Homo sapiens: one gene and its partners. The protein of the gene in region 6 purifies or fractionates together with the protein of the main gene of each other region. This does not show direct contact. Each region holds a gene or a part of one and is shown on either strand. Other genes may lie near its edges. The genes, in order: NPTN, VSIG4, HTR1E, CLEC2D, FLCN, WDFY3 and RIC3.

Region 1 (3,500 bases), on a different chromosome or scaffold from region 6:
TATCAGATAACCATCTGTGGCTCTGTGTTGGATTTTTTTTATACCATTAGGAAAATGGGAATTTTTTTATAGGCCTGCCATACTTCTACTTTGCCAAATAGCACTTTATTATCAAGATACACCCATGGCTCATTTCAGACTCACTGAACTTTTTTTATATGAATGCACAGTCGTCATATTTTGGGCAGTCTGTGAGTTCTTGGTAACTCATCCCCTTACTACAAAAGCACTAAGTGAACAATACAAAAGTATAAAAGCACAAATTTGAACTTACATAGTTTAGTTTAAGTATGTTTCACTAGAAAATCAAATATTTAGATTTCTCACATTGAAAATGCTTAGGATTGAGGTTTAGCTGCTTCCTTTAAAAAAAAAAAAAAAAAAAAAGCCCCATGTCTTTTTTCTTTACCTACTGGAGTATTCTCAGACCATTTCCTACATGAAAACACCCACCTGCATTCCTTTAGTCCCCTGTATGGTCTCTTTGAGGATCAGTGCCCACTAGGTTGTCTTGTAGGTGGACTAATCTACAGATCACCTTTACCTTCAGTATTTTCAGGAACAAGTGAATCATGGAGTCAAATAAGAGCTTTGTTTTGTTCACTTGACTCACCACTTGACTGTATTCCCTGAAAATGTTAAATGATAGTTCTCTAAAAAGACCAGGTCAAGCTAGCAGCCTCTAGGCTTCCATCCATGTCACAGCTGGGCACCTGCTTGGGTGCACCTTCTGTGTTGGTGTCCTGCGGACTGCACTCCAGGAGCAGTCAGCCTGTGCTCCTGAGTCTCCCCTCCCCAGGCCCTGGAGGAATGGGGAGTGAACCCACTTAGTTGCTGAGGCCTGCAGTTCTTCTGGATATTTTAGTGACCTCACAGACAGCAAATTAAAACAGGAGCTGATTTAAGAAAAGAAGTGCTGGTACCAAAAAAGAACTTTCTGTTTTTACCTTGGGATAATTTTTTATAAGCAAGTCAAAGGGACTCTCTTTAAGTTACTGATGGAGAAGATATTTGAGGTTTTTTGGGGGGCCATTTTTAGTGGCTCTGATATATCCAAGCTCTTTTAGACACTTTAGAATGAAGAGCTGTTCTAATGTTCCAAAATCTATTCGTTGGTCAAAACATTTGGTAGCATATGAAGCTTTATACAGACTAGGGATATTGGAAAAGAAATGTGACTTTTAAAATGACACCTAAAACATGCATTCGGTGTCTGGTCTGTTAACTAGGGGCCATCTGGGTCAATAACAAGTTACCTCATGGAGAAAATGCAATAGGACCAAACAAGGAAGGAAATAGGAAGTAACTCAGTCTCTCTTGGGTTTAATGCTAACCTGCTAAGGTCAGGCAAAATTTAAGTGGATTTAGAAACCATAAAACCTTCTAGTGAGATGAATGCAGTGACAAAGGACCTTTGACCAGAGAGTCAACTCTTCATTATTCGGACTTTAAAGCCATCTTTTTGGAGGTGATATTGTATTAGGCAATCCGTTATTTACTAGACATTGCAGAGCACCCCTTCTAGATGATGAGGCGGATATAGGGGGAGTGAGGGCTGTGGTCCATTCGGTTGGGAAGATGGAACACGCAGATAAATCAGTGTGTGCTACAGTTCCACCGGTAACTTCACTCTCATAAGGTGGATTCCAGAAGCATCTTGTTTCCATTATCCCCCCAGTCCTCTTCCTCTCATCTAGCCAGTGGCTGTAATACTGAGGTGGAGAGAACAGTCATTGTTTAAGCTGGCTATCTTTTGGCCTGAGGGTTTGGGGTATGTTGATATTTGTCGGTTACTATGACTTCTTTTTTTTCCCCCCTCAATTGCATCAAACCCTTAAAACATGGTGGTAAGTGAGCGATATGCATGCTTTTGGAGTTTGTTTAATCTCCGCTTCAGTCTATACGATGCACAGTTCATAATGTTAACACTTTTCTTCAAGTTTACTTCATTCACTTTCACAACTAATTTGGATTTCAGTTTGCTGTTTAATCCTCATTTACTTTGGTTTCTGTATCTTTTTTCTGTAATTCTGTTCTTTCCCTCTCCCCTGACTTCCCTGTTAGGGGTCAAGTCGTTTTTTTGTCTGACCTGTAGGGGAGAGTGGTGCTGCAGATAGTGATTCAGTCCAGGAGAGTGGGGAGACATGAGGCTCTTTTGTTTGTCAGTGTGAAAGTGGATTTGGGGAGACAGATGAAGAGGGCTCCTGGGATTTTGCCCCCTTGTGAATCTCAACTGCTCCCACTTGCAGGCATGGCAGCTATGCCGGAGGCACTGTCGCTAAAACACCTCCATGCAACCCTTTGCATGTTACCAGCTTGTTGGGCTGGAAAGTGACATTACTAATCAGACACCAGGGAATACCCACACTCCAAAAGGAAAAACAGCCCGTGGTGTGAGGTGCTTGGGTTGGTGCCTACAGTGTCATGCTTTGAAAAGATTAGCCTGGCTATTGCGATTCTCCCTCCCCTGCTTTTTATTTTAAATTTGGGAGTAGATTGGTGTATTCTTGATTCGGCTCTCTTGCATTAGAATTTTGTATTTTCGAGTGCACAGCCAGAGCACTAAAAGTATTCCAAGTTTGCTCCTATGTCTTTTCATTTAAATCCCCAAAGTGCTTAGTTCCTAGCATGTAGCTGAGCTGGCTTGGCCGGGATGCTGAGCATTAGGATGTTGTGAGGGGAGAATTTAGGCTGGGCTTTTGTGTCTTAGTACCTGGTATGTCTTTGTATCTCTCCACTGCATACACAGCACACAGATGTCTTGGGTGTCCTTAAGTCTTAGTTTGTTCTCTGTACCCGTTTGATAGTGTATACTGTTGTTAGTAGTGGACTCCTGTGGACACTAGTGTGTCGCTAGCCTATTGTTTTGGCTGATGAGTCATTGGTTTGTGGTTAGTTCTTTTTTTTGAAATCCTTTTTTGCTCCAGTCACTGTGTGTGCTGGCGGTGGCTTTGCCTCTCCGTTGCCTCGAAGGAACAGGTGGAGCAATGTCTCCCTCTGACAGACATTACTCCCGACATGTGCTCCTGCAGATGCCTACACTGAGACTGTAATCTCCATAACTGCTTCATGTGCACCAAGCCCCCTTGTGGAATCCTGCTGAGAATTTTTCTAGAAGCCTTCAGTGAAATCAAACTGTTCTGAATCATTTAGTTTACCTGACTTTTGTATAATAAAAACAAACTAAGAGCACTTACTTGTTCCCTTCCCCTTGTGGGTCTTTTTAAAACATTCTCTCTCTGTGAATGTGTATCTCTGCTTAAAGGGGATCAAGTTGCACTTAGTTGAAACACGAAAGACTTATAAATCAGAATCATAAAGTATCAATTTAAGAAGGCTTAAACTCATATAATGTCAGCTTTTTGATTTTAAAAAAGTTATCTCATGGCTCCCCTGGGTTTGGCTTCTGGTTTTGGCCAGGGCACAGGAGTGAGCCTGTCTTTCTGAAGTCTTTTCTAGAGGGATGTCACCACTGTTCAGCTTTCCTCGGTGTGTCACAG
Region 2 (3,500 bases), on a different chromosome or scaffold from region 6:
TATATTATATTATTATATAATATATATTATATGATATATTATATTACATTATATATTATATTATATGATATATTATATGATATATTATATTATATGATATATTATATTATATATTATATAATATAATATAATATATCATATAATATATCATATAATATAATATATCATATAATATATTATATAATAAAATATATAATATAATATATAATATAATATATTATTATATATATAATATATTATATAACATATTATATATATAATAATATATAATATTATATAATATATTATATTATATATAATATAATATAATATATATTATATTATATTATATATTATTAATATATTATAATTATATAATATATATATTATATAATTATAATATATTAATAATATATCGTATTATATATATTATATTATATTATATATTATATTATTAAAATATTATCTATATTATAAATATATTATATTATATTTTTATTATATTATAATATTACTTCCTTTATTATTACTTCCACTTTACTGATAGTGACTCAAAGTTCAGATAGGTTTAGTAATTTACCCAAGGTCACACAGAGAGATATGTGGTAAGGCAGACCTTGCGCTTAGATCAGTGTTATTCCTACTACATCATACAGTCCTTCATTACCCTCCTGCTCTCATTAGGGGCTCCTACTTGATTCTAGGGGAACTACAAGGAAAGGTAGAAGGTACAAGTCAGTGGTATTGTGGTTTACTTCACTTTGGAGATCAGAAAACATGAGGAATAGTACAATGTCATTTTTCTTGTGATGTCCTGTACCTATAATCCAGTCTCTTTATGCAACTAATGAAGCAGGAGGAGGAAGAGGAGATAAGAATAAGAAAAAGAAGAAGGAAGAAAAAAGGAACGGAAGCATAATGGAACAATGAGTGGAAGAAATAAAGGAGGAAGAAGGGAGAGGAAAAAAAAAGTAAAAGGGGAAAAAACATGCCATTTTGGGAAGTCTAGTTACCAACTCTGTCCTATTCATTCTGGGATGGAGGAGTTAAGCCTGACCTACTTCCAGAAGTGATTTTCAAAACTGAGAAATTGAGACTATCTAGCAATTTTCTTGATAGGCCAGACTGAGCTTTGTGAGAATTTCCAGCAAATTCCCAGGGAGGAAAAACACAACCCAGGCCTTTCAGCTCCCCTAAGGTCAGAAGGAAGACCTGCATATGCATAGACAAAGGCATTTTCAACTCACAGCAGAATGCTGCTTTGTTGCCCAAGAGGGGAATGTGAGAATGCTTTTCAGAGAAGAGGAGGGACATTGGGAAAGTCCAGAGGAAGATTAATGGGAAATAGCCTATTAAACCAAGAGGCTCAGATAGTTTTCATGGGGTTTAAGCATGGTATGTTTGTGCTTGCATGTGGCCAAAAATATGTATGGGCATGTGAGTCCATGATAATGAAAAGCTGTATCTGCAATCACATGGAGGTGTGAACTATCTATGGCACAGTGAAACCCACTACCTGGTGAAAATTCACCACCAGCTGGAACCTATAATTACATAACTTCTATTTCTATTATAGCCTATTAACACTTGACCACCTAAGATTAGAAGGGACCTTAAAGAGCAAGGCTAAGACCCAAACAAAGCCTAGAACTTCCCCCAGACAGTTTAATCCATCCATAGACAGCTCTGATTAATCACAAAGTTCGTTCTAAGGCAAACCATCTGTTCTGCGATGTGAAAAGCAGACAAGAATAACATAAAAAGAAATAGAATTAGGAAAATAGAGCAAACCAAAATCTGCCCCTCTTGTATTCCCATTCGTAGGTCTGAGTTCTGCTCTCTGCCAAATTCGAAGCATTCCAGAGAGTATGTAGTGGATCTAGCAACATGGACTTATGTTATTTATTCTTTTCTACTCAAGGGCTTTTTCTTGACTAAAATATGCTATTGATGTTCTAAGGGTCCCTGGTGAGGGCACAGGCTAGAGGCTTGATTTTATATCTCTATTAACAGAAGTCCTGATGCTGGACAGTATATTCTGGGAGTTAGAACGCATACACTCAACCCATCCAAAAGATGTCATCTTCCATCCGCTTGACTGAATACTGGGATTTCTAGGCTCAATAAAAGACTTTTATTCAGGAATACCTCATATCTTTGAAACCACCTCTCTTAGGAGAGACATGAATATATTGCCTAAATATACCCACCCCACACTCCTGGCCCCAGCTAAATAAAACAAAAAATCTTCTAAATAAGAGCTTATGGATGGAAAATTCTGATGGGAGGCAATGGCTGTTTCAACATCCCCACCTCCTTCCCCACCCCCACCCCCATCCCCAAGGGTTTCCTTCTCAAACACGCCAAGGAGCAATCTCCCATTGCTTCTATCACCACCCCTACTACAGCCAGCTTCAGGATTTCACTCAGAACCTTTTCCTCTCTAGACCAAAAATGGATGCAATCTTTTCCCCCTCAAGATGAAATTTTCCTATGTATCCTTGCTAAGAACTAAGAGAAACCAAAAGGAAAATAAACAAAAGAAATCAGAAAAAAAGTCAGGTTTACAAAGTGCAGGTTTTGAATTTAACAATAGCTAATGATTTTGTTAAACAGGAATGTGTATCCAGACTTCTTCCTCACACTTGGTTCCACCCTCAGTATTTCCTTTTGCCTGTCTTCCAGAGAACATCTTAGGGTTGGGACCCCACTCACTGAGGATTTCTAAGGGAACAAGAGAAGATAACAGGGCAGAGGGCCCTTTCTTGCTGATCTCAAAAGCCTCCACCTTTCTCCAGGTGCAAATTTACACAAAATGAAATAGTCCAGACCCAAATGCTTAGCATTTTTGCTTCCACATCTCTTTTGGAAAATGTGAAAAGAAAATTTTTTCATGGATTTGCAGAATGACAGATTTGATAGAATATCTAGAGCACCTACCACCCAAACTCTCCACATTATAGATGAAGTAAATGAATCTTCCACGGTAAGAAGGTGACTTACCTAGGATCACCTTCATAGCAAGACAGTAACATAAAAAGGACTTGAAACTCACAAGATCTAAACAATGTTAAAGGCTTTCATTCTGAAGACTGGTTCTGATTGATGAGAAGGCTGGCAAAGAGCAAAAGGGCACAGGTACACAAAAGTGTGATAGAAAGAAAGTTGAGTGGCATTTCTCAGAAACCTTTTGAGGTTTGTCACTGTCACCTTAGTTGCCAAGTAGGTATGCCATCTACGTTTGCTTCTTTCCTCTGTTCCGCCTCTTCAGGCCGTCCCATCCTGGAAGTGCCAGAGAGTGTAACAGGACCTTGGAAAGGGGATGTGAATCTTCCCTGCACCTATGACCCCCTGCAAGGCTACACCCAAGTCTTGGTGAAGTGGCTGGTACAACGTGGCTCAGACCCTGTCACCATCTTTCTACGTGACTCTTCTGGAGACCATATCCAGCAGGCAAAGTACCAGGGCCGCCTGCATGTGAGCCACAAGGTTCCAGGAGATGTATCCCTCCAATTGAGCAC
Region 3 (3,500 bases), on a different chromosome or scaffold from region 6:
TGTCAACAGCCACGTGAGCGAGCTTGGAAGCGTTACCTTTCCCCAGTTGAGCCTTGAGATGTCTGCAGTCTCGGCTGAAACTTTGCAGCCTGTGAGTGACAGACCTGAGCCAGAGGACCTAGCTAAGCCATACCCAGATTCCCAACCCATGGAACTATGATCATAGAGATAATAAAAATCTGTTGCTTTAAGCCATTAGGTTTTGGGGTAATTTATTATTTAGCAATAATGAATACACACATTTAATCCTCATAAATAGCCCTATGACATAGTACTGTTATGTGAGCCCCAACAAATGAGGAAACTGAGGTTTAGAGATGTGAAAGCAGTTAATGAATGGCAGAGCTGGGATATGAACCTGGCTTTCTGGACTCGAGAGCTTGGGCTTGAGCCCCATGCTGTGTTACCCCCTAGTAGTATAACACAAGGTGCAGTTTGACATCACAGGTGACAATGAATCACAATAGCATATTCTGTTTTGAGAAACTTCCCTGAAAGGAGGCTGAGGTAGACAGGGCATGTATTATTGTCCCCATTGTAACGATGACAGACCATGCAGCTCATACAGCCAAGAGAATGGGGTATTAACCCAGGCCTTCTGACCCCAGGTCCGTAGAGTTGGGCCTGTGCTTCACTGCCACGCTGGCACTGTGGCACTCACTGTACATTCAGCAAGCCCTGAGGAAGCTGGCGGGAGCTTAGCTGACATGCACAGGGTAGGTCAGTTTGTTCTCTGGAGAGCATTCCATGAGATGCAAATATCTTCACACAGGCCTGGGTTAATACCCCATCCTCTTGGCTGTGTGTAGACCCTCTCACCCTTAGATTCAGACTCATTTTACTAAACAGGCAAAACATAGCTACAAATTTCATGTATTTTAATATAACAGGACTATGTGGTAATAGTAACAATACTATGTAATCATTAACTGTTAATTAAATGCATGCTAATGGTACATAAGTCTGAGAAAGGGTACTCAGTACACTTAATGCAATGTGAGAGATTATCTCAAAGCCAATGGGACCCGGCTGGACATCTTTTGTGCTGGAGAAATTACTCCATCTGCATCACAAGAGCATTGCCTCTGTCACCAAGCTGAAAGTAATCAAGTCTTGTGAGCTTTGAGACTTTTGCTTCCTCTAAAGTCATTTTTCATCCCTTCTTGGTAAGATGCTTCATTTATATGTAAGTCACCAAACCCTGGGGTCAGTACAGTCTGGTTCTCCAATGCCTCGGACATAAAGTAAAACCTTGATGGTCTTAGAAACAGGCTTACTGTATTGCAGAGAGGGTGAGGAGATTACATTGTTTTACCAGTTTACAATCTATGAAATAAAATATGCTTGCCAATATGAATGCATCTTGTAAATGATGTATTTGCTAATTATAAATTAAGTTACATATTTAATCCTTGATTTTTTAGAGCATTGTGTAAGGAATTGAATTAGGTTCAGAAGGAAAGAATGGTAAGAAAGTTAAAATGGCTCAAATGAAAGCATAATAAAAGAGGAAATCATGCTTCTTTCTTTGAATGTTAAATTATGATGAACTATATGGTAGGATAGTGTTTATGGATGACTGTATATCAAATTCTTGTGTTAGGTAACAAATACTTCCTTGACTAGGGCAGAGTTCAACATTAAAATTAGGACTATGTAATAAAGTTTAAAATGTAAGGTACTTAAGTAAGTATACAATTCTTGTTTACTTACAGGAAAGAATTAATTACAATGACAAACTACACTGTCAGAAATCATATAAGGATAAATATTACTGAATTCAGAGGGATGAGTTTGGAATGTGGAATCCTTTTCTGTAGGTTCTTCTTCCTCCATCTTCCTCAGATGAGGTGGGCTTTCCTTTCCCATTTTTCTTGGATGCTAACAGCATCTTTTATACCTCTCAGGCATGTTTTCTGCCCAACAGTGTACAAGCGTAATATAAATCCCTATGATTATATTGTCGCTAACCAGGCAAGCTATTGTAGCTAGCCACCTTACTGGGTTCTCTTATTCTTTCTAATGGCATTTTTATGTATCCCCTTGAATTTTCCTAGTAGCTAATTATTTAATCTGTCATTAATAATAAAACTTTTCCCTGACCAATATTTATAACACTTCCCTCCTTCCCTCCTTCCCTTCCTTCCTTCCTTCCTTCCTTTCTTCTTTCCTTCCTTCATTCCTTCCTTCCTTGCTCCCTTCCTCCCTCCCTAATGGGGTCATTAGGAGGATCTGAGAGTTTTAGAACTGCTAGCTGCTGCTGCTGGTAGCTATTTCTCAAAATATTTTCTTCTTGCTATAAAATGCTTTCCTTCTCATACCAGATTTCATAAAGACCTTCCATCTGGTCTGCACTGATAACTAGAATCCAGAGATGCTCATTCCTCTTACAACTTGTAGTTTAAAATGATCCAGATGCAGAAGGATTAGGTTTCATAGCTTCTTCTAAAGGATTTTGTCTTCCTAATCCTACAACTGCATGTGTTGAGAATTGATCAGCATGAGAGAGTGCTAACAATAAACCTATTAAAGTGTCCAGTTTTTCATTTGACGTGTTTTAGGGGAATACAACAATGGGATCAAAACACTGACATCTATTCAGGTAAGGACTGCAGTAAACCAGATAATCCACAGTGCATGAGACAAAATAAGAGAACTAAAAATGAAAGACAAAATTATAGTCAATCTGTATTAGAAAGAGGGTTCTCAAGAATTTTATCAATTTGTTGTGATCCGGGAATATGCCAATTGATTGAGTGATCTCTATAAATTCTGGTTCTCAGTTTCTTAATCCACAAAATGTGGGAACGAATAAAAAGTAGCTGGGATTTTGATGAAAGTCCTTTCATCACCAGGAAGATGAACTTTGGTAAGTTGACTGACCTAAGCCCCAAATTTTAGGGGCCACAATACTGGTTCTAGAAAATGATTCAGGGAGGAGAAAACAAGAGAGAAGTAAGTCACTCTAAAGTGCTGCTGCCCCATTTCTCTTCCCTGTTCATCTGTCCCCTCGTCACTTGTGACGGCACACTCATCTTCAATGTTTCCCTGGGGTTTATGTTCATATAATTTCACATGTAATAAAAATCTGGTAGGTGCAGAAGAAAGGAGCATAAAGCATGAGATGCTAAACTCACCTCTGCCTTGAGATGGCCTTGATAATTTACGGCATAAAAAGTAAGTTCCTATTTGGTAGAAATTCAGCTTTTGATCAGTCTCAAGCTTATTTTTTTGTGTAAATAAGCTTGTAGAAATAGAGGGAATGCTTTCCCACATTAGAGCGTTAGATTTGATCTTTCACTTTTAAAGGGTAGTGCAGAAATAGAATTCCAGGGTGGGCAATCAAAACAAACATGAAAAAAATGATCTGTGTGTAAAAGTGAGATGTAGGGAATTAGACTTGAGTAATGAGAAGATGACACAAAAGTTCAGGGCCTGAGGCTTTCTGCAAAGAGACCTACTTTCTTTTTCTTTCTTTTCTTTTCTTTTTTTGAGACAAG
Region 4 (3,500 bases), on a different chromosome or scaffold from region 6:
CTGAGCCCCTAGTAGCTACCAGTTCATCTTCTATTATATAACCACCTTCTACCTTCAACTCAATGGTTCTGAAAGTGTCTATGATAGACCAGAATGCTGGGTATTCATAGAATCATTACTATCAATTGGCACCATTATCCTTGGATTTGGCTCTTGTGAGATGAGAAATCACTCTTAGTTATGAATAATAACTGGTGTAATCTGAATAACAAATCATAACATGAGGCAAACGTGTATTGTATCTGGTTTGGTATCACAAACAAGGTGATACCAAATTATAACTATTAAAATGTAATTTCTTGAACCAGACCATAATGCAGGATGACTTTCCCCAAATCTGTGCATATTTGTTGTGCTATCACTGCTCCTGTATCAACCAATTTAAAGAAAACGACCAGACCAGAGAGGGCAAGATGGCTGATTAGAAACAGCTCTGGTCTGCAGTTCCCAGTGAGACCAATGCAGAAGGCAGGTGATTTCTGCATTTCCAACTGAGGTACCAGGATCATCTCACTGGGACTGGTTACACAAGTGGGTGCAGCCCACAGAGGGCAAGCAGAAGCAGGGTGGGGCGCTGCTTCACCCAGGAAGCACAAGGGGTGGGAGAACTCCCTCCCCTAGCCAAGGGAAGTTGTGAGGGACTGTGCTGTGAGGTGCTATCTGGCCCAGATACTACGCTTTTCCCACGGTTTTTGCAACCCACAGACCAGGAGATTCTCTGGAGTGCCAACACTACCAGAACCCTGGGTTTCAAGCACAAAACTGGGTGGCGATTTGGGCAGTCACCAAGATAACTGCAGGAGTTTTTTTCATACCCCAGTGGAGCCTGGAACCCACTGAGACAGAATCATTCACTCTGCTGGAAAGGGGGCTGAAGCCAGGGAGCCAAGTGGTCTTGCTCAGTGGGTCCAATCCCCACAGAGCCCAGCAAGCTAAGACCCACTGGCTGGAAATTCTTGCTGCCAGCACAGCAGTCTGAAGTGGACCCCAGATGCTCAAGCTTGGTGAGGGGAGGTGCATCCGCCATTACTGAGGCTTGAGTAGGTGATTTTCCCCTCACAGTGTAAACAAAGCCCTGGGGGAAGTTCGGACTGGGCGGAGCCCACCACAGTGCAGCAAAGCCAGTGCAGCAAAGCCACTGCAGCCGGACTGCCTCTCTAGATTCCTCCTCTCTGGGCAGGGCATCTCTGAAAGAAAGGCAGCAGCCCCAGTCAGGGGCTTATAGATAAAACTCTTATCTCCCTGGGACAGAGCACCTGGGGGAAAGGGTGGCTGTGGTCACGGCTTCAGGAGACTTAAACATTCCTGCCAGCCAGCTCTGAAAAGAGCAGTGGATCTCCCAGCACAGTGCTCGAGCTCTTCTGAGGGAAAGACTGCCTTTTCAAGTGGGTCCCTGACCCCCATGCCTCCTGACTGGGAGACAACTCCTAGCAGGGGTTGATAGGCACCTCATACAGGACAGCTCAGCTGGCATCTGGTGCGTGCCCCTCTGGGATGAAGCTTCCAGAGGAAGGAGCAGGCAGCAATCTTTGCTTTTCTTCAGCCTTTGCTGGTGATACCCAGGCAAGGAAGAAATGGATAAATTCCTGGACACATACACCCTCCCAAGACTAAACCAGGAAGAAATCAGATTCCTGAATAGACCAATAACAGGTTCTGAAACTGAGGCAGTAATTAATAGCCTACCCAACCAAAACAAGCCCATGTCCAGACAAATGCACTGCCGAATTCTACCAGAGGTACGAAGAGGAGCTGGTACCATTCCTTCTGAAATTATTCCAAACAATAGAAAAAGAAGGAATTCTCCCTAACTCATTATATGAGACCAGCATCATCCTGATACCAAAACCTAGCAGAGATACAACAAAAAAGAAAATTTCAGGCCAATATTCCTGATGAACATCAATGCAAAAATCCTCAATAAAATACTGGCCAGCCGAATCCAGCAGCACATCAAAAGCTTATCCACCACGATCAAGTCAGTTTCATCCCTGGGATGAAAGTCTGGTTCAATATATGTAAATTAATAAATGTAATCCATTACATAAGCAGAACCAATGACAAAAACCACATGATGATCTCAACAGATGCAGAAAAGGCCTTTGATAAAATTGAACACCCCTTCATGATAAAAACACACAATAGACTAGGTATTGATGGAACATACATTAAAATAATAAAAGCTATTTATGACAAACTCATAGCGAATATCATACTGAGTGGCCAAAAGCTGGAAGCATTCCCTTTGTAAACTGGCACAAGGCAAGGATGCCCTCTCTCACCACTCCTATTCAATATAGTATTGGAAGTTCTAGTCAGGGCAATCAGGTAAAAGAAAGAAAGAAAGAAAGTGTATTCAACAGGAAGAGAGGAAGTCAAATTATCTCTGTTTGCAGATGACAGAATTGTATATTTAGAAAACCCCATTGTCTCATCCCCTTAAAACTTATTAAGCTGATAAGCAACTTCAGCAAATTCTCAGGATACGAAATCAATGTGCAAAAATCACAAGCATTCCTATACACCAATAACAGACAAACAGAGAGCCAAATCATGAGTGAACTCCCATTCACAATTGCTACTAAGAGAATAAAATACCTAAGAATACAACTTACAAGAGATGTGAAGGACCTCTTCAAGGAGAACTACAAATCACTGCTCAAGGAAATAAGAGATGACACAAACAAATGGAAAATCATTCCATGCTCATAGATAGGAAGAATCAATATTATGAAAATAGTCATATAGCTCAAAGTAATTTATAGATTGAATGCTATTCCCATCAAGCTACCATTGACTTTCTTCACAGAATTAAAAAAAAAAAAACTTTAAATTTCATATGGAACCAAAAAAGAGCCTGTATAGCCAAGACAATCCTAAGCAAAAAGAACTAAGCTGGAGGCATCATGCTACCTGACTTCAAATTAAACTATAAGGCTACAGTAACCAAAACAGCATGGTGTTGGTACCAAAACAGATATATTGACCAATGGACAGAACAGAGGCCTCAGAAATAACACCCAACATCTACAACCATCTGATCTTTGACAAACCTGACAAAAACAAGCAATGGGGGAAAGGATTCCCTATTTAATAAATGGTGTTGAGAAAACTGGCTAGCCATATGCAGAAAACTGAAGCTGGACCCCTTCCTTACACCTTACACAAAAATTAGCTCAAGATGGATTAAAGACTTAAACATAAGACCTAAAACCATAAAAACCTGAGAACAAAACCTAGGCAATACCATTCAGGACACAGGCATGGGCAAAGGTTTTATGATTAAAACACCAAAAGCAATTGCAACAAAAGCAAAAATTGACAAGCGGGATCTAATTTAACTAAAGAGCTTCTGCACAAAAAAAAAAAAAAAAAAACAAACACAAAAAACAAACTATCATCAGAGTGAACAGGCAACCTACAGAATGGGAGACAAATTTTGCAATCTATCCGTTTGACAAACAGCTAATATCTAGAATCTACAAGGAACTTAAAAAAAT
Region 5 (3,500 bases), on a different chromosome or scaffold from region 6:
AAGGCTTCGTTGGGAGGATCACTTGAGCCCAGAAGATTGAGGCTGCAGTAAGCCGTGATCGTGCCACTGCATTCCAGCCTGGGCAACAGAGCGAGACACTGTCTCAAATAAAAAAGATGGGAATAGTAGACACTGGGGGCTCCAGAAGGAGGGAGGGAGGGAGGAAGGGGAGGAAGGGCTGAAATGCTTTCTATTGGATACTATCTGGGCATATTACTTCCTGTGGTTCACTGTCTGGGTGACAGGATTCATAGAAGCCCAAACTTTAGCACCACGCAGCATACCCTTGTAACAAAGCCGCACACGTACGCCCTCAAGCTAAAACAAAAGTGGACCGGGAGGCCGAGGTCGGGGGATCATGAGGTCAGGAGTTTGAGACCAGCCTGGCAGATAACGGTGAAACCCCGTCTCTACTAAAAATACCAAAAAAAGTTAGCCGGACATGGTGGCAGGTGCCTGTAGTCCCAGCTACTTGGGAGGCTGGGGCAGAAGAATCGCTTGAACCCAGGAGGCGGAGGTTGCAGTGAGCCGAGATTGCGCCACTGCACTCCAGCCTGTGCGACAGAGTGAGACTCCGTCTCAAAAAAAAAAAAAAAAAAAAAAGTGGAAAAAAAAGAAACAACGTGTAGATCCTCGAGAACTGTGGCCGACTGGGTGTGTTCCGTAGACACGCTGTTGGCATTTTTCTTACTGATTTGAGTTTTCTCACCAGCAGAGAACAGCTGACGGTCTTTCCATAAGTGCTTCTAAGAGAGATGTGTGGTACCCCGGGCTAAGTAGACAGCAACTGAGCCCTCCCTCCCACCCCAGGGCTCCCAGAGCAACAGGGAGCAGGGAGCATAGGACCTGGCCGCAGCCAGGAATCTACACTGACCGGCTCAGCCCATGAAGTATCTTGGGCTGAAGTCACAGGATGAGACTGTTTGTATCTGTAACTGTCCTTGTCATCTGTCTTGCAGATTTAGAAGAGGAATCAGAAAGCTGGGACAACTCTGAGGCTGAAGAGGAGGAGAAAGCCCCTGTGTTGCCAGAGAGTACAGAAGGGCGGGAGCTGACCCAGGGCCCGGCAGAGTCCTCCTCTCTCTCAGGCTGTGGGAGCTGGCAGCCCCGGAAGCTGCCAGTCTTCAAGTCCCTCCGGCACATGAGGCAGGTAGGCGGCAGGGGCACAGCGCATCAGGAGCTCAGGAGGAGAGCCAGTCATGGGCTGTCCCTGCCCACACGCCTTGCCTCTGGACCCTCCACCTTCAAAACCCTGCAGGAAGTGACTGACAGCCTCCTCGGTGGGTGGCTGAGGGCACAGGGCGTTGGGGGTATTAGCCATAGGATCAGTGCTCCCCTTTCAGTGATGACCTAAGTATCTTCAAAGAAAAGCCCAGATAGTTGGCATCCCATGGTCCTCTAATCCTCTAAGAAGCTCCTAAAGGCATTGAACAGCACTGTAATTGGTTTGGATGCAGCCTGGACCCTGCCCATTGTAAGTGATGGTCTGGCTGGGCGTGGTGGCTCTCACCTGTAATCCCAGCACTTTGGGAGGCCAAGGGGGAGCGGATCACGAGGTCAGGAGTTCGAGACCAGCCTGGCCAACATGGTGAAACCCCATCTCTATTAATACAAAAATTAGCTGGGCATGGTGGCATGTGCCTGTAGTCCCAGCTACTTGGAGGCTGAGGCAGGAGAATCGCTTGAACCTGGGAGGTGGAGGTTAACAGTGAGCCAAGATGGCACCACTGCACTCCAGACTGGTGACAGAGCGAGACTCCATCTCAAAAAAAAAAAAAAAAAGAAAGTGATGGTCATTCTTACAAAAAATTAGGAACAACTTGCATATCAAACCATACTAGTAAACAGTAGCCAAACCATGGAATATGATTAATTAGAAGAAATAAAGCAGGCACTGTGTGTTCAGGGTGATGTATGTACATGTGTGCCTGCCAGACACGACAAAATCTAACAGTGTTGTCTCCAGTTACATCGAGTCAGATGCCGGGAGAGAGGGGTGTGGGTTGCTGGATTACAAGGGCAGGCTGCCTTCTTATAAAATTCTTCTGCATGAATTTTTCCAATGAGCACTGATTCATTAGAAGAGAGTTATTTGTTTTTGAAAATGGAGTGAGACTGATTTCATGGCAGATGTCCTTGGGGCTTCTGGATGTAAACACCCATTCCATCAAAATCCTGCATTTGGCTGAAACCTTCCTTGTCCGTTGCTTATGTTGATGAAGGTTGGAAGGGGTCTGGAATTCCTCTGGAGGTGGGACTACTTTGAGGCTGTTGGGGTTTGGTGAGACATAGTATTGTGGCCTCTCTCTTATGTTGTGTTTCAAAGCTGGGTTTGGCTTCTTAGAAGCCGTGAGACAGCAGGCTGGACTCTCCTAAGGTGTCAATGTCATGGAAGTTAATAACAGGTGGGGTGTGGGGAGAGGCTGTTCTAGGTTAAAGAATAAGGACGTGACAACTAAAAGCCATGATGGGTCCTGTAGTATCTCCTGGATCCAAAGAACAGCAGCCGTCAAGCAGGCAGCAGCCCTGGGCTTGTGCACACGGCTGGATGTCAGATGCGTCCGTCCAGGCACTCCTGGCTGCAGTCATGGTCTCAGCTGTGGAGATGCCCTTATTCTCCTGGGTGCTGCCATGTCGAGGGCCCTACAGCTTGCTTTCAAATGGTTCAGCAGAAAGTGTCTGTAGAGAGAAGGTGAATATTGCACAAAGTTAACATCTTTTTGCTTCAAATTTTTAAAAACAAAACTGGGAGAAAGATCTTGGAGCAAGAGCTTTGGAATCTAGCATTTATGTGCAAACCTGGAACTTCTCTCTCTGCCCCTTTAACCCTGGGCCGGGCACCCGCCTCCCTGAGAAGATAAGTGTCTTTCTCCTGAGCCCTGTCTTTGCTCTACAAAGTTTTATGAACACACAAATAACTTCATGGGAAGGGAGAGAAAAACCATTTCTACTAGTCACGCTGAAAGCACTGCACTCTCTTGTTTAGGTCCTGGGTGCCCCTTCTTTCCGCATGCTGGCCTGGCACGTTCTCATGGGGAACCAGGTGATCTGGAAAAGCAGAGACGTGGACCTCGTCCAGTCAGCTTTTGAAGTACTTCGGGTGAGAACATCTTTTCCTTAGGTGTGCGGCGCAGGGCAGTATTGGCCTGGTGCCTGGCGTCAGGTGGGGATGCCAAGGTGCACCGACTGCCCAGCACAGAACCGCTGTGCACCACACGGTCTCCACTGGGGGCGCAGTGGGCACGGAGACCCGGGTCTGGTCTGATGATGTTTAAATCATCAGAAGGATGCGTGTGCCTGCTGACTGCCCAGGCCTGAGAGGGAACAAAAATGCATATGACACAGTCTTGGTAAAAGCTTCTTTGTGGGATGCGGTAGGAGACAAACATCTGTGCAGGCAAACATTAATATGAGTTAACACCACAGAGCGAGGGGCGGTACAAGCTGGTGTGTGACTGGCGGTCCAGACAAGAGTTAGGGACCTGGTGGTGGAGGACCCT
Region 6 (3,500 bases):
TTAGGGGACTCAAGAAATAATAGTTCAGTTGAAGACCAAAAACACCTGGCTTTATTGGTTATGGAGACCTTGACAGTGCTTCTTCAAGGATCAAACACAAATGCAGGTAATTTAAAAAGCTGCAAGCAAATACTTTGGGAGATTACCACTGATTACATCTTCTGTGGTTATTCTTGCTTCTGAAATCTTCCTGTCACTTTAGAGAAAAAACTATTGATTCAGTGATGGTACCCGTCATGTCCCTAAAAATGCAGTGCTTTTGACCATCAGGAGCACCTTGATGACAAAACATATAAGATTGTTACTATTTCAAAATGATGTTTAAATTGCTTTTTATAGTGTCTTGTGTTGAAAGTATTCTTCTAATTTTTTATTGATACACTCTTACTCAAATAAGTTGCTATTTAAATTCTTTCTAAAATATTTTCTTTACACAGTGATTTAAAGAATATTTTTAGTACTACAAGTTAGAGTATTATAATGTTACAACCTTCAGGAAATACTGAACAATGATTCTCTAATAAAACGTAATCTCTCCAAGGTTAATTAACTTTACTAAATATTTTGTTTAATTTTGGTCTCAATTTCTCTTTTATACTTTTCTACCTGTCATTAACAGATAACCTAACTATATTTATAAAATATCACTCTTGCTTTTTAAAAAAGATTACTTGAGATTTTAATTAACATCAAACAACTCTCAGGTAATAAGTTCAGTACAACTTGAGAGGAATAATGAGTTCAGATTAGTAGGCTGGGCTCAAATCATAGGGAGCTTTTTAGGCCATGGTAAGGAGCTTGAAATATATTTTAAGTGTTATGGAAAGCCATGGATGAATGAACCCCATGCCCAAATGCATGACTGTTTGCCTGAATGCAGGGAAACTCAGCATTCATCATATTTAAAATATATTGTGTATCCCAGGTACCATGCTAGCTAGGTGTTAGATTATTCTAACACCTAGATGCTAAGGTAAGATCATTCTTGCTCCCTGGGAATTAGAATCTAGTGAAGAAAAATGTAGACACATAATTATAGAAGTAATTAGTCTGATACAAATTTGGCAAATGCTAAGATAGACTTGAATGAATTTAACAGGTAATTGAAACAATGAGTATGATGAATTTTAGTGGATACTATAGTAACATTTTGTCTATGGCATAATGCATAATCTTATTTCCACTAACTAGGTTTAGTTAACTGAGATAATCAGAAACATAATGAAGATAGACTAACAGGAATTTGCTTAGCAAATTAGCTTTCCTTGAGACGACCTAGAAGTTGCACAGGAAGAGATTGGACAATTGGAGAGCTTACTCTGCACGACTAAAAGTCACTTAGTACATATCCCAAAGTGCCAAACAATTTCATACAATTCTTTTCAGTTTTTCTTTTCCCAGTATGAAAGATGTTACTAGCTGTGTGATGTTAGGCATTTAAAACAGTACTTTACTCATAGTTTAAGTATTTAAATAATATTAGCCATTATGATTATCTAGTGGGTCCTAACTGACAACCAGGAGGTAACTAAACAGGCCTTCAGGTAATGAAAGGATGTCACAAATTCCATGTGCTGAATCTCAAGCACATGGCTTAGACTGACTTCATGATCTTATAATTTTTATAAAGTTAACAAATAGAAAGCCACTAAGCAGAGAGGACAGTGGCTGCTATAGCAGAATACACTGTTTTAGTAAACGTTTATTGAAACACAAATCAGGAGAAAATCCAGTAGTCATGGAAGACCAAACATAAGCAATAATAGTAAGACTGTTTGTTATAAACCATAATAGAGATATAAACAAGATGCCCTAAAAACGTAAGGGATAGAAGAATTACTTAGAGGAAATACTAATTAGTGATTTCAGTCACTGGGCCCATTTTTTTAATACTGGAGGATGATATTAATATTTGATGTGAGAACAGTATCACTTGTGAGCAGGAGCACAGGCTTACAGAGCTGGGCTATGTAGGCATACATCCTTTTCTGTTGCTTACTAGCTGTATGACTTTGACCGCCTTACCTCTATATGGTAGGGGATGAGTATTAAGTAAGTCAATCTGTGTAAAGGCTTTGGAGCAGTAACAATGACACATACTTCTGTTACAGAATTTGTCACTTTTTGTTCTTATGCTCTACCTGTGCAACAAAACATGTTGGTTCCTTGTAATTTTTCCCATGGTGGAATAATTTATTCCATTCCTTTCTTGCTACTATTTTGGAAGCCATGTTCATTTAAATCTCCTTTATTTAGGCTATTGTTCCTCTGAAAGCCTTTTACATAAGTTGATTACAATAGAGAGTCTCCTAGGGTCTGCCTAAGAGACTTGTGAATGTTCTAGATTTTGAGAGCTTGGACATGGTGAACATATCACGGCATTAATCTTGCATTAAGGAAATGTAGAGAAAATTTGCATATACCTTTGCTGACAACCCACTGTGCAAATTTGTATTGTAATTTAAAAGGTGAAATAGTTGGGTAGGTTTTATTTACATTATTATGAGTTACTTTACCTACAAAAAATAACTGAATGTTAATTCATCTGACTTGTCTCAGAATATTTTAAAGTAGCCATTGTTGGACTTTTTCTCCTTCCTTCAAGGAATTTTTCGAGAATTTGGAGGTGCAAGATGTGCACATAATATAGTAAAGTACCCTCAATGCCGGCAGCATGCCTTGATGACTATCCAACAGCTGGTGCTCTCCCCAAATGGGGACGATGACATGGGCACTCTCCTGGGGCTAATGCATTCAGCCCCACCGACGGAATTGCAGTTGAAGACTGATATTTTAAGGGTAAGTTTGATAAATGTGTTTCCCTTCTTTTACTACTAAAATCTGTGGTTATTTTTAGATGATCTGTATTTAAGTTAGAGACAGGGAAATTAAAAAAAATCCAAATTACCCAAGAAACCTCACAACTTTGTACACGTTAGGAACTTGGAAAAACTCCAGTCATTTATGTCTTTCAGTATATATTTTACTTCTGCTGATAAACCTTTTCAGTAATTATCTTGACTTACTGGAACTCTTAAATTAAATATTAGTGAAGTATAGGATCTTAATTAATACTAAATATATGTATTTTCTGATCAGTTAAATTCACTCATAGTGTTATGCATCTGTGAAATGAATGTTAGATTTGGCATTTTATACACATGCATGCATATATGTATGTATGTAAGTAATGGATATTCTAGTAGATATCAAACAATATACCAGGAGTTATACATATGCTTTTATCATTTACTCCTTAGTAATACTATAAATTAAGTAGCACCCTGTTTTGCAGATGAGAAAACTTAGGTTTAGAGAAATCATATAACATGGATTTTGTTCACTTAAGTGACTTTTAATTAGTAGAACCGACCCCCAGATTTCAATACCCGTTTTATTTCCACAGCACCATTGTTTTATACAGATTTATACACTCACATTCTCCCATATTACTGGTTATTGATATTATAAGAAATGATATGTAAGAAATTTTTAGAATC
Region 7 (3,500 bases), on a different chromosome or scaffold from region 6:
AGTCCCCAGAGTGTGATATTCCCCTTCCTGTGTCCATGTGATCTCATTGTTCAATTCCCACCTATGAGTGAGAATATGCGGTGTTTGGTTTTTTGTTCTTGCGATAGTTTACTGAGAATGATGATTTCCAATTTCATCCATGTCCCTACAAAGGACATGAACTCTTCATTTTTTATGGCTGCATAGTATTCCATGGTATATATGTGCCACATTTTCTTAATCTAGTCTATCATTGTTGGACATTTGGGTTGGTTCCAAGTCTTTGCTATTGTGAATAATGCCGCAATAAACATACGTGTGCATGTGTCTTTATAGCAGCATAATTTATAGTCCTTTGGGTATATACCCAGTAATGGGATGGCTAGGTCAAATGGTATTTCTAGTTCTAGATCCCTGAGGAATCACCACACTGACTTCCACAATGGTTGAACTAGTTTACAGTCCCACCAACAGTGTAAAAGTGTTCCTATTTCTCCACATCCTCTCCAGCACCTGTTGTTTCCTGACTTTTTAATGATTGCCATTCTAACTGGTGTGAGATGGTATCTCATTGTGGTTTTGATTTGCATTTCTCTGATGGCCAGTGATGATGAGCATTTTTTCATGTGTTTTTTGGCTGCATAAATGTCTTCTTTTGAGAAGTGTCTGTTCATGTCCTTCACCCACTTTTTGATGGGGTTGTTTGTTTTTTTCTTGTAAATTTGTTTGAGTTCATCGTAGATTCTGGATATTAGCCCTTTGTCAGATGAGTAGGTTGCGAAAATTTTCTCCCATTTTGTAGGTTGCCTGTTCACTCTGATGGTAGTTTCTTTTGCTGTGCAGAAGCTCTTTAGTTTCATTAGATCCCATTTGACAATTTTGTCTTTTGTTGCCATCGCTTTTGGTGTTCTGGACATGAAGTCCTTGCCCATGCCTGTGTCCTGAATGGTAATGCCTAGGTTTTCTTCTAGGGTTTTTATGGTTTTAGGTCTAAGGTTTAAGGCTTTAATCCATCTTGAATTGATTTTTGTATAAGGTGTAAGGAAGGGATCCAGTTTCAGCTTTCTACATATGGCTAGCCAGTTATCCCAGCACCATTTATTAAATAGGGAATCCTTTCCCCATTGCTTGTTTTTCTCAGGTTTGTCAAAGGTCTGATCGTTGTAGATATGCGGCGTTATTTCTGAGGGCTCTGTTCTGTTCCATTGATCTATATCTCTGTTTTGGTACCAGTACCATGCTGTTTTGGTTACTGTAGCCTTGTAGTATAGTTTGAAGTCAGGTAGCATGATGCCTCCAGCTTTGTTCTTTTGGCTTAGGATTGCCTTGGCGATGCGGGCTCTTTTTTGGTTCCATATGAACTTTAAAGTAGTTTTTTCCAATTCTGTGAAGAAAGTCATTGGTAGCTTTATGGGGATGGCATTGAATCTGTAAATTACCTTGGGCAGTATGGCCATTTTCACGATACTGATTCTTCCTACCCATGAGCATGGAATGTTCTTCCGTTTGTTTGTATCCTCTTTTATTTCCTTGAGCAGTGGTTTGTAGTTCTCCTTGAAGAGGTCCTTCACATCCCTTGTAAGTTGGATTCCTAGGTATTTTATTCTCTTTGAAGCAATTGTGAATGGGAGTTCACTCATGATTTGACTCTCTGTTTGTCTGTTATTGGTGTATAAGAATGCTTGTGATTTTTGTACATTGATTTTGTATCCTGAGACTTTGCTGAAGTTGCTTATCAGCTTAAGGAGATTTTGGGCTGAGACAATGGGGTTTTCTAGATATACAGTCATGTCGTCTGCAAACAGAGACAATTTGACTTCCTCTTTTCCTAATTGAATACCCTTTATTTCCTTCTCCTGCCTAATTGCCCTGGCCAGAACTTCCAACACTATGTTGAATAGGAGTGGTGAGAGAGGGCATCCCTGTCTTGTGCCAGTTTTCAAAGGGAATGCTTCCAGTTTTTGCCCATTCAGTATGATATTGGCTATGGGTTTGTCATAGATAGATCTTATTATTTTGAAATACGTCCCATCAATACCTAATTTATTGAGAGTTTTTAGCATGAAGGGTTGTTGAATTTTGTCAAAGGCTTTTTCTGCATCTATTGAGATAATCCTGTGGTTTTTGTCTTTGGCTCTGTTTATATGCTGGATTACATTTATTGATTTGCGTATATTGAACCAGCCTTGCATCCCAGGGATGAAGCCCACTTGATCATGGTGGATAAGCTTTTTGATGTGCTGCTGGATTCGTTTTGCCAGTATTTTATTGAGGATTTTTGCATCAATGTTCATCAAGGATATTGGTCTAAAATTCTCTTTTTTGGTTGTGTCTCTGCCCGGCTTTGGTATCAGAATGATGCTGGCCTCATAAAATGAGTTAGGGAGGATTCCCTCTTTTTCTATTGATTGGAGTAGTTTCAGAAGGAATGGTACCAGTTCCTCCTTGTACCTCTGATAGAATTCGGCTGTGAATCCATCTGGTCCTGGACTCTTTTTGGTTGGTAAACTATTGATTATTGCCACAATTTCAGCTCCTGTTACTGGTCTATTCAGAGATTCAACTTCTTCCTGGTTTAGTCTTGGGAGAGTGTATGTGTTGAGGAATTTATCCATTTCTTCTAGATTTTCTAGTTTTTTTGCGTAGAGGTGTTTGTAGTATTCTCTGATGGTAGTTTGTATTTCTGTGGGATAGGTGGTGATATCCCCTTTATCATTTTTTATTGTGTCTATTTGATTCTTCTCTCTTTTTTTCTTTATTAGTGTTGCTAGCGGTCTATCAATTTTGTTGATCCTTTCAAAAAACCAGCTCCTGGATTCATTAATTTTTTGAAGGGTTTTTTGTGTCTCTATTTCCTTCAGTTCTGCTCTGATTTTAGTTATTTCTTGCCTTCTGCTAGCTTTTGAATGTGTTTGCTCTTGCTTTTCTAGTTCTTTTAATTGTGATGTTAGGGTGTCAATTTTGGATCTTTCCTGCTTTCTCCTGTGGGCATTTAGTGCTATAAATTTCCCTCTACACACTGCTTTGAATGCGTCCCAGAGATTCTGGTATGTTGTGTCTTTGTTCTCGTTGGTTTCAAAGAACATCTTTATTTCTGCCTTCGTTTCGTTATGTATCCAGTAGTCATTCAGGAGCAGGTTGTTCAGTTTCCATGTAGTTGAGCGGTTTTGAGTGAGATTCTTAATCCTGAGTTCTAGTTTGATTGCACTGTGGTCTGAGAGAGTTTGTTATAATCTCTGTTCTTTTACATTTGCTGAGGAGAGCTTTACTTCCAAGTATGTGGTCAATTTTGGAATAGTTGTGGTGTGGTGCTGAAAAAAATGTATATTCTGTTGATTTGGGGTGGAGAGTTCTGTAGGTGTCTATTAGGTCCACTTGGTGCAGAGCTGAGTTCAATTCCTGGGTATCCTTGTTGACTTTCTGTCTCGTTGATCTGTCTAATGTTGACAGTGGGGTGTTAAAGTCTCCCATTATTAATGTGTGGGAGTCTAAGTCTCTTTGTAGGTCACTCAGGACTTGCT

The links.
Region 1: the proteins of WDFY3 (region 6) and NPTN purify together in Homo sapiens (co-immunoprecipitation; one large-scale study listed by IntAct). This does not show direct contact.
Region 2: the proteins of WDFY3 (region 6) and VSIG4 purify together in Homo sapiens (co-immunoprecipitation; one large-scale study listed by IntAct). This does not show direct contact.
Region 3: the proteins of WDFY3 (region 6) and HTR1E purify together in Homo sapiens (co-immunoprecipitation; one large-scale study listed by IntAct). This does not show direct contact.
Region 4: the proteins of WDFY3 (region 6) and CLEC2D purify together in Homo sapiens (co-immunoprecipitation; one large-scale study listed by IntAct). This does not show direct contact.
Region 5: the proteins of WDFY3 (region 6) and FLCN purify together in Homo sapiens (affinity purification with mass spectrometry; 2 studies listed by BioGRID and IntAct, with this or other methods). This does not show direct contact.
Region 7: the proteins of WDFY3 (region 6) and RIC3 purify together in Homo sapiens (co-immunoprecipitation; one large-scale study listed by IntAct). This does not show direct contact.

The regions. Positions count from the first base shown.
Region 1 is NC_000015.10:73,563,890-73,567,389, reverse strand, and holds part of NPTN (neuroplastin isoform b precursor), read left to right. Parts: exon of another isoform or gene 1-452; intron 453-3,500. UniProt on the Homo sapiens protein: Probable homophilic and heterophilic cell adhesion molecule involved in long term potentiation at hippocampal excitatory synapses through activation of p38MAPK. May also regulate neurite outgrowth by activating the FGFR1 signaling pathway.
Region 2 is NC_000023.11:66,033,581-66,037,080, reverse strand, and holds part of VSIG4 (V-set and immunoglobulin domain-containing protein 4 isoform 1 precursor), read left to right. Parts: intron 1-3,250; coding exon 3,251-3,500. UniProt on the Homo sapiens protein: Phagocytic receptor, strong negative regulator of T-cell proliferation and IL2 production. Potent inhibitor of the alternative complement pathway convertases.
Region 3 is NC_000006.12:86,940,528-86,944,027, reverse strand, and holds part of HTR1E (5-hydroxytryptamine receptor 1E), read right to left. Parts: intron 1-3,500. UniProt on the Homo sapiens protein: G-protein coupled receptor for 5-hydroxytryptamine (serotonin). Also functions as a receptor for various alkaloids and psychoactive substances.
Region 4 is NC_000012.12:9,683,213-9,686,712, reverse strand, and holds part of CLEC2D (C-type lectin domain family 2 member D), read right to left. Parts: intron 1-3,500. UniProt on the Homo sapiens protein: Receptor for KLRB1 that protects target cells against natural killer cell-mediated lysis. Inhibits osteoclast formation. Inhibits bone resorption. Modulates the release of interferon-gamma. Binds high molecular weight sulfated glycosaminoglycans.
Region 5 is NC_000017.11:17,216,669-17,220,168, reverse strand, and holds part of FLCN (folliculin), read left to right. Parts: exon of another isoform or gene 1-602; intron 603-959; coding exon 960-1,150; intron 1,151-2,986; coding exon 2,987-3,100; intron 3,101-3,500. UniProt on the Homo sapiens protein: Multi-functional protein, involved in both the cellular response to amino acid availability and in the regulation of glycolysis.
Region 6 is NC_000004.12:84,816,691-84,820,190, reverse strand, and holds part of WDFY3 (WD repeat and FYVE domain-containing protein 3), read left to right. Parts: intron 1-4; coding exon 5-106; intron 107-2,605; coding exon 2,606-2,799; intron 2,800-3,500. UniProt on the Homo sapiens protein: Required for selective macroautophagy (aggrephagy). Acts as an adapter protein by linking specific proteins destined for degradation to the core autophagic machinery members, such as the ATG5-ATG12-ATG16L E3-like ligase, SQSTM1 and LC3.
Region 7 is NC_000011.10:8,141,526-8,145,025, reverse strand, and holds part of RIC3 (protein RIC-3 isoform a precursor), read left to right. Parts: intron 1-3,500. UniProt on the Homo sapiens protein: Molecular chaperone which facilitates proper subunit assembly and surface trafficking of alpha-7 (CHRNA7) and alpha-8 (CHRNA8) nicotinic acetylcholine receptors.